Homo sapiens: one gene and its partner. The protein of the gene in region 2 interacts with the protein of the main gene of each other region in a pairwise test. Each region holds a gene or a part of one and is shown on either strand. Other genes may lie near its edges.

Region 1 (4,152 bases), on a different chromosome or scaffold from region 2:
GTGGTGGCTCACGCCTGTAATCCCAGCACTTTGGGAGGCCTAGGCAGGCGGATTACAAGGTCAGGAGATCGAGACCATCCTGGCTAACACAGTGAAACCCAGTCTCTACTAAAAATACAAAAAATTGGCCAGGCATGGTGGCAGGCGCCTGTAGTCCCAGCTACTCGGGAGGTTGAGGCAGGAGAATGGCGTGAACCTGGGAGGTGGAGGTTGCAGTGAGCTGAGATTGCGCCACTGCACTCCAGCCTGGGCAACAGAGCGAGACTCCATCTCAAACAAAACAAAACAAAACAAAACAAAACAAAAAAACAGTTACAGCAGGATGCGCTCAATATCCAGTCACCCGCCAAGATCATATCGTCCCATCTGCTAGAGAAAGTACCATCCCAGGGAACAGAGGTTGCCTGTGAAAGGCAGCAGCCTGCACAGCCTGGAACCATGTATGCAGCCCCCCAGCCTCCCTCAAGCAGGCAGGAATCACGCAAGATGGAGTCTTTGGAGCACTTGTTAATCCGTTATGATTTATTAGCTGTACAGCAGTAGATCCTCCTCCCCAGCTTTCAACCCCATTACATATTTTATTACAGGTCTCATGTTGGCGTCCTAAAATAATGAAAAATATCACACAGTACAGCTAAGTACAAAATGCATCAACCTAGAGTCTGATAGCTAACTGATGGCTCTCTTAAAAGCAATACACAGAAGAAAAAAGTGTTTGAAATCAGTAAGACTGAGGCTCTCTAAAAAACACATTTTTAAACATGTGACAGTTCATGTGCAAGAATCACTTTTTAGTTGGTTTTGCTTCACATTATTTTATTTTTTGAAGATCCAAGGTTTAAATTACTGACCTAGTGAAATTTTCTGGCCCAGCTTATAAGGGCTGCTGTGAACCACTCATAATCACCCTTCTGCCTTAACAGAAGATTTATAAAACACAACAATCAGCTACAAACAGGGCAAAGAAAATGTCGATGGGAAATCATAACTGAAAGTTAATTATACAAGGTTCAAATGCTGGCTCCGTGGGCTGGAAATCATGATCTGCCACGTGCATGTCCGTCACTGGTGGGCAGTGGTCTGGGTGCCATTCTGCTACATGATTGTGATCCAATTCCTTGTCAACATTTACACACTACAGAGTCTGTGGTAACTTAATTTGCAAGTAATTAAAATGCTGGGTTTTCTTACACTGCACTTCTTTTCAACCTCTTAATTAATGGAAAAGATTAAAATGTAAAAAAAGTTATTTACAAGCTTGACCATACCAGAAACTTTGCCAAGAAAGAGGCAAAGCTTTCAGGACAGAACCTGATCGTAGCATGCCATACTACTGGTGTGCAGCTGACTCCAAGCAAAGGGAGTCAGGGAAAAGCAAAAGCAAAAAACAGTTTAAAACTCTAAGTCCTTCCCAAGTATGCATTTACAATTAAAAACTCTCTTGGGAAGAAGACCATAGAACTCTGGGAAGCCTGGTGGCCATTCTGGAGTGGTTTACCACATGGAGGGAGGGGTCAATGTCTCCGTTTCCATCTAGGAAAACGAGTTAGTTGTCAACACTGTCCTCAGCACTTCACAGTAAACCCTCAGGGACTCAGAACATTCCATGATTTGCTAACATCAGACAGCAAGTTCTAGTTAAATCACATTTTTTTCTAACATCATCCTTGAAGTTTTCGTTCTCGGTATGTTTGGTAAAATGATGCTTTTCCCAAAGCCAAAAAAAGAAAGAAGGGAGAAAAATTAAGATGCGGGCCGTTTAAACACAGCCCAGAGAAGTCCTGGCGACGCACAAGGCTCCGCCATCACCGGTCCATCATGCTGAGGATCATCTCGGGCGTGAGGTCTCCGTTGGGGGCATCTGTGGCAGCTGGCTGGGCCTCCTCTTCCTCTCCCTCTGCGGGCTCAGCATCTGGCTCTTTTTTTACTTCAACTATAATGTTCTCAATTGCACCTGTATTCTGGTCTTCAACCTGAATGATAGCTGTTGCTGGCAAAGAAGAGCACAGACAGAACAAATGGTCCATTAAAGCCCCAAGAATCACAAGGGTCTTTTAGACTGACAGCGAACGGGATGTCAGCAATGCAGGACAGCCTTATTAGATAGCGGTCCAGAGACAGTCAATTTATTTTTTATTTTATTTTTTGAGACGGAGTCTTGCTCTATGACCAGGCTGGAGTGCACGGGCATGATCTCAGCTCACTGCAACCTCTGCCCCCCGGGTTAAAGCAATTCTCCTGCCTCAGCCTCCTGAGTAGATGGGACTACAGGTGCCCACCCCTACGCCTGGCTAATTTTTGTATTTTTAGCAGAGATGGGGTTTCACCATGTTGACCAGGCTGGTATGGAACTACTGACCTCAGGTGATCCTCCCGCCTTGGCCCCCCAAAGTGCTGGGATCACAGGCATGAGCCACCGCCTGACCCTGAGTTTCTTAGAAGGGGCAATCTCAGTGCAGAAACTGCTTTCCCTCTCCAACCTTTACGATTTGGCTCTTTTATATTCATTACCGCATCCATTCTGCCAGCTGACTGTGACTTTGGTTGTTTTTCAAAACCCGCCCACATTAACAGTACCCATCTTGCAGAACACAAGTACCCTTCTACTCTGGACTTCTTCTTGAAATGTAACAGGCCTCTAAAGACTTCCTCAGATGTTCCTCAGTAAAAACTCCTAAAAAGCCATTTCCTGAGAGTTTGTTCTCGACATGCCCTTAACTTGTTCTCATGGCTTAGTTCCCACATCCCCAAAGAACAAGGACCCATCTGGCTCCCCCACATGCTCGGAGAAGACGCCAGCCTCCAGAGCAGAGATGAACAACTTACGCTGGTTCTGTTTGGGCTGGTTGGTTCTGCCAGGGGGTCGTCCTCTCCGCTTCTTGGCGGGTGGTGGGGCTGGGGTCACAGGCTGAGGCTCTGGCTCAGGTTCAATTTCTACGGCAGGCTCCTCCTCATCCTCATTGTCGTCCAGATCTGGTTCAGCATTTTCTTTTCATGAAATCAGGAAGCACAGGTGGTGGGGCAAGGAGAAGGGTGGTGGAAGATGAAAGAAAACAATTATATATTATTTGAAGTCTTGTTTTATAAATATATATATATATATATATACACTTTCTTTCTTTTTTTTTTTTTGAGACAGTCTCACTCTATTGCCCAGGCTGGAGTGCAGTGGCGCGATCTCGGCTCACTGCAATCTCTGCCTCCCAGATTCAAGCAATTCTCGTGGCTCAGCCTCCTGAGTGGCCGGGACTACAGGCACGCACCACCATGCCCAGGTAATTTTTTTTTCCTTCTTTTTTTTTTTTTGAGACAGAGTCTCACTCTGTCGCCCAGGCTGGAATGCAGCGGCACGATCTCAGCTCACTGCAACCTCTGCAACCTGGGTTTAATTCTCCTGTCTCAGCCTCCTGAGTAGCTGTGACTACAGGCATACGCCACCACACCTGGCTGATTTTTGTATTTTTAGTAGAGATGGGGTTTCACCATATTGGTCAGGCTGGTCTTGAATTCCTGACCTCAGGTGATCCACCTGCCTCGGCCTCCCAATGTGCTGGGATTACAGGCATGAGCCAACGTGCCCAGCCAATCCAGATAATCTTTGTATTTTTTGTAGAGATGGGGTTTCGCCATGTTGGCCAGGCTGGTCTCAAACTCCTGACCTCAGGCAATCTGCCTGCTTCGGCCTCCCAAAGTGCTGGGATTACAGGTGTGAGCCAGCATGCTCAGCCAATTATTAAGAAAAATCAATTTAAGGCTGGGCACGGTGGTTCACACTTGTAATCCCAGCACGTTGGGAGGCTGAGGTTGGAGGATCACTCATGTTCAGGAGTTCAAGACCAGCTTGGGTAACATAGTGAGACCTTATCTCTACAAGAAATAAGAAACTGGCAGCTGGGCGTGGTGGCTCACACCTGTAATCCCAGTACTTTGGGAGGCTGAGGTGGGTGTATCACCTGAGGTTGGGAGTTTGAGACCAGCCTGTCCAACATGGAGAAACCCTGACTCTACTAAAAATATAAAATTAGCTGGGCGTGGTGGCGCATACCTGTAATCCCAGCTACTCGGGAGGCTGAGGCAGAAGAATCACTTGAACCTGGGAGGCGGAGGTTGCGGTGAGCTGAGATCCGCCACTGCACTCCAGCCTGGGCCACA
Region 2 (5,353 bases):
GTAAAGACCTTTGGGTATATTAAAAAAAAAAAAAAATCCACTTCTTTTGTAAATATAATACACAGGTAATATGTGTGGGTTATATGATAACAAGGTAACTTCTGACAGCTTAGAGATGGAAAGCAAATGACTAACCTTTGAGTTCTACCATAAATTAACAGATAATACGTAGGGAGAATTCTTAAAACCAGGGGTCTACAGACAGATGGACAGACTAAAATCTACAAAAGATACTGCATATAAAGTTTCAAACCAACATATATACACCTCAGGAGAGGGGGACTGTAACTTTCAGTTAGTCTTTATAAAAACAAACCACAGATGGAATGGAGGACCTCTGATGGCAGAATTCTGTCTAGAACCTGACTGAATATACGAATATACACTAAGAACATCTGTGTCAAAATACCTAAATAAATCAAGGCAACCCATGTCTATCACAAGAGGTCTGGCAGCTACAAAGAAATCAATGGGAGAAGGTGTCCAGATCCACAGATGAACCCATTCAATCTAGTCCCAGTAGCAGGTATACATTCCCACTCTAGAACGGGCAATGCTTTGTGCCATTAAAAGCATCACATAGCTATCCCTTTTTTATCCCGATAAGGTGCTTAATGTGTAACATTAGTTATACATTGCCTCATCTTCTTTAAACTATCATCTTTGAATCAACAGTATTTACTAAATGCAGGTCAGAGATGTAAGGTATTCCAGATGAGTATCAAAGTATCCAGTAAACTTTTAAATGTACTTCTTAACTATAAACTAATAAATTAGCATTGCATTTTCATACATCTATTAATATTAGTCTCAATATCTTTAGTTAGCATTCCTGGATCAACCCACAGGCACTAAACAAGACTGTTTCTGTGCCTGCAAGACCCTGAGACTGGGAAGCCTACCCTGAATCTTTCCCACCTCTATGCATCTTACCATTCAAAACTCTTAACACTTGACAATTTTCAAAAAGTCTTTTTAGTAAAACTGAACGCTTTCAAGTTACTCTACTTGCCTTCTCCAAATTCCTATAAAACAGAAAGGGTTAGAAATTATTCTTCCCAATAACATAGAAAGGAGAAGAAAAAAACCCTACATACAGCTGAAGCAGTCTCCTTGCTTTCAGTTAAAGCTCTCTCCAGGTCACTCAGACTCTCTAATTTGGTGCTTTTTTTCTTTCCATTTGGCAAGGGCTCCTTTAACTTTCTCTGCTTCCTTTTCAATCCCAAAAGGCCAATATCACATCGAGGACACAGCACCTAATGTGGGACAAGGCACAACCAATGGTAAAATAAATTTCAGATAAAGCATTATGTAGGAAGTCCCAAAATAAAAGCCTAAGCAGTAAAAAGGATGTGCATTTCTTAGTATTGAAGATTTTCTTTGGAACATGCAACCCTGAGGCTCTCCTTTACAAAAGGAGGAGGAAGACTCATAAAAGATAGACTGATTCCTTATTCAATTAAGTAACAAGTTAAAAATGTGATATATACTGGTTGATCCCAGTCATGATGCACAAGCAAGTTTACAGAAAATACAAAAAGTGCAGTTAAAGCACTTTTAAAAAATGGGGGAGATCATTTATCAGGCTTACTAAATTCAGGTGGGCGAAGCACGGCCAAGTTTAAGAGTCCAATTTCAACACAGAGGAATTTCACCCAATAGGAAAAAATTTTCTTCTTTAGATACTGTTATGCTAAATCAACCAAGAAAACATTTAAAGGTTGCTTCACCAGAAAATTAGAAGAGTCTCCCTGGCTTTACGGGAAGAACAACTCACAGAATATAGATTAATCTGTGATGTCATCTTTGTATGTGATGAACTGCATGTTTTACCAAACTAGGAGATCTAAGGTCTTGCAGATGAGCTGGTTGTAAACTTACCTCTAAGAGAGAATATGGAGAATTCTCAGTCAAGAATGTATTAACAGCACATTCTTTCCAAGCCTGAACCTCAGCTACTAGGGTTTCCAGTCTTGGCAAAGAATTCAGATGTACGGGGATAGATCGGCCTCGTGTAACAAGTTCTATGAGTGTGTCTAACACTGGCACACGTCCTCCAGCCTAATAAGTCAAGAAAAATTACAGCAGTTTAGAGAAAAGAACACTTCTATGAAAAACAGGAAAAGCTTAATTCAGATTGGTCCATTGAGTACTTCAGATTACTCCATGATCTCAACATGCTAAATTCACAAACGCTGACTAACCTGCCAGCTGACCAATGATATTGGGGGTAGAAGTGACATTTGTTCCTTCATTACACAAACAGAGAACCTAGTTTGGGTCTTTTGTTGGTGGTGGTGGTGGTAGTGTTGTTTTTTTTTTCTTTTTTTAAGACGGAGTATCACTCTTGCCTGGGCTGCAATGCAGTGGTGCAATCTCAGCTCACTGCAACCTCTACCTCCTGGGTTCAAGCAATTCTCCTGCCTCAGCCTCCCGGGTAGCTGGGATTACAGGCACCCATCACCACGCCCAACTAATTTTTATATTTTTAGTAGAGATGGTGTTTCACCATGTTGGCCAGGCTGGTCTCAAACTCCTGGCCTCAAGCAATCCTCCCACCTTGGCCTCCCAAAGTGCTGGGATTACAGTGAGCCACTGTGCTGGGCCTAGAGAACCTAGTTTGTGCTAGGCTCTAAGGATACAAATGTGAACATGGCATATACTGTGGTCCCTTTGTTCTATTTATACCCTTCTAAATTCATTCATCTCATTGGTTCCTATTAACAGTTTGAAAAAAATTTCAACAGAAATGAAGGTTTGTAGTAACTCAAGACTTTCATACTGAATTACACAAATAAAAGGCAACAAAACAATATTTTACCCCAATCCACTCACCAATGATTAATTAAAGCAACTCAATATAAATTATTCAGGAAACTAAAATATAAGTTGAGACAGCCCAGTGGTTCTCTAACTTTACCATGTATAAGAATCATCTGGAAGGCTTGTTTAAACACAGTTTCCTTAGTCCTATCCCCAAATATTCTAATTCAGTGGGTCAGAGGAAGGTCCATAAATTTGCACTTCTAACAAGTTCCCAGGTAAAGCTGCTGTTGCCGATGCTAATACTGCTGGTCTGGGAACTGTATTTTTAGAAAGAGATAGCCAAACTAGGAGAGTAAAAGCATTAAGGTTATGGAGGATGAAATGCATTGGTGTTGCTCCAATACAATGTAAAACTTAGCATCACTAATGGTAGGTCATCCAGATATATCTCCTGTTGTGATGCAATATAGAATATACAGTATTACCTGACATTTTAATGCATTATATTAAAAAAATGTTTAACTTGGATGCACCAGGGCTTTAAAACTAACTTCCAATTTATAGGAAATACAGAGAACAGAACACTCCACAAAGAAACAATCAAACAAATCCAGAAGGTGGAGCATACCATGGGATAACTGTCTAGTCAGTGACATGAGAAAAAGTGGGGTGGGGAGGAAAACGCTACAAGATTAAAAGAAACTTAAAGAGATGACAATTAGGTGCAACATGTGTTTCTGGGTTAGACAAACAGCCATAAGGGACATTTTTGGGACAACTAGGGAAGACTGGGTAGGTTGATATTTTGCTGCCTTTGATATTTATTCTTACAGAATTAAATCTGTTAGGGCATAAATGTTCTGATGGACACTTAAGAATGTGACTCATAAATTAATGCTATTCCTATGATATTTAATTTAGAAATCCGAGTGCTTCCTATGTGTAAAGCAGAATACTGCATAACATTTAAATAATCCACTAAATAGGAAGTAGTTCCTTGTTGTTAGTCATGTGTAGCAGTCCTTAAATATATGATGCAAAAAAAAGGTAGGCTACTTTTTCAGGAATGAAGCAAAAAACTTGCCTTTTGCCCTTAATGGCACTGTTACAAACATAGTAAGTAGCATATACATATAAAATATGAAGGAAATAAACTCATCCAGAAGCATGCCCTTGCTTTCTGATTTTATATGTCAGCCTCTCCTTACTGCCATGACTTCACCTTCTGGCTGCTAGCAATCATGGAGTAAAAAGGAGGACCATAACTAAAACTAATTACTACAATACCAACTATCATTGACAAGTGCCTGCATCTAAAACTCTCATTAACAAAGTTTATGTCCATAGTAAATACTTTTGTTTTTGTTTTTGGCTTGCTGGAGTCAGTCCTTAATTATGTAATCTCCTCAAACAATATATCTTCTTTTCCCTATTAACAAGAACAGATGCAAACATTTGTCTAGAATTGTCCTGTTTGGTATTTCTTGTTAGCAATTAGCCAATTAACACCACTTAAAATTACACAAATATTCAGAAAGCCAGATCGTATTTTATTTCTAGAATTTGAGGACTTCAACAAAATAGAACTTGAGACTTTTTTTTTTCTCAATAGGTCAGTAACACCTATTGGTTTATGATGATAAGAGATAAGGGAAGACATCCCCCATCAAACACGTTTCAAATTAAGTCATTCAGCCAGTCGTCTGAAAACTGGGAAAATCATATTAAAGAATGAATTCTTTTTGTACCTTAACAATGCTACAAGTGAATTTAATTCTTTTTTTAAACTTATATACAGGTCAATAAGTATAACATCTAGCATAAAACCACAAATACTTGGTGGAAATGACTTTGGATACTTTGGATAATTACTTTGGAACTGGGTAGGTTTTATTTCTTTTGTAGGGTTGGGAGGGTACTTTTAAGTCACTACTTCATGAAAATTCTGGGCCTTGGGGCTTAGCTGGGCATTTAGTCATATAACTAGATTCACTGAATTTGCTATTACTGATTGTCTGAACTTCAAAGTTGTGGACAAGCCAACAAGAGGTAATCATACTTATCAAAGAGTAGAAAACTACTTTCTCTCACTACTTCATTGTTAGCTCTTTTGCTTCAATCTGCAGTCAAGTACTCAAGTTTGTTATGAAAGACTCCCCAGCTCCCAGAAAAAGTTGGTGACACTGTCTAAGCTTTAAATATTTGAGACAACTGGTCAGGATAATAGCTGGTAAGTACATCCAAATAAGTATGAATAGAATTAGTCTTCTGGTCAACCCCTAAAATACTGAAACTGTGCAGCAAGATCCAACGTATTATTCTTCACAACTTTCCAATATTGCTCTTTTTTTTTTTTGCCTTTTTTATTTTTATTTTTATTTATTTATTTATTTTTTATTGATCATTCTTGGGTGTTTCTCGCAGAGGGGGAGTTGGCAGGGTCATAGGACAATAGTGGAGGGAACGTCAGCAGATAAACAAGTGAACAAAGGTCTCTGGTTTTCCTAGGCAGAGGACCCTGCGGCCTTCGGCAGTGTTTGTGTCCCTGGGTACTTGAGATTAGGGAGTGGTGATGATTCTTAATGAG

What was found. Proteins that work in one complex are often made in the same cells at the same time.
Region 1: the proteins of KDM5B (region 2) and CTCF interact in binary tests that used the Homo sapiens proteins (3 or more experiments, as listed by UniProt).

What each region holds. Positions count from the first base shown.
Region 1 is NC_000016.10:67,635,526-67,639,677, reverse strand, and holds the end of CTCF (transcriptional repressor CTCF), read right to left. Parts: intron 2,989-4,152; coding exon 2,827-2,988; intron 1,991-2,826; coding exon 1,806-1,990; 3' UTR 501-1,805; downstream 1-500.
Region 2 is NC_000001.11:202,734,332-202,739,684, forward strand, and holds part of KDM5B (lysine-specific demethylase 5B), read right to left. Parts: intron 2,062-5,353; coding exon 1,882-2,061; intron 1,257-1,881; coding exon 1,098-1,256; intron 1-1,097. UniProt on the Homo sapiens protein: Histone demethylase that demethylates 'Lys-4' of histone H3, thereby playing a central role in histone code. Does not demethylate histone H3 'Lys-9' or H3 'Lys-27'. Demethylates trimethylated, dimethylated and monomethylated H3 'Lys-4'.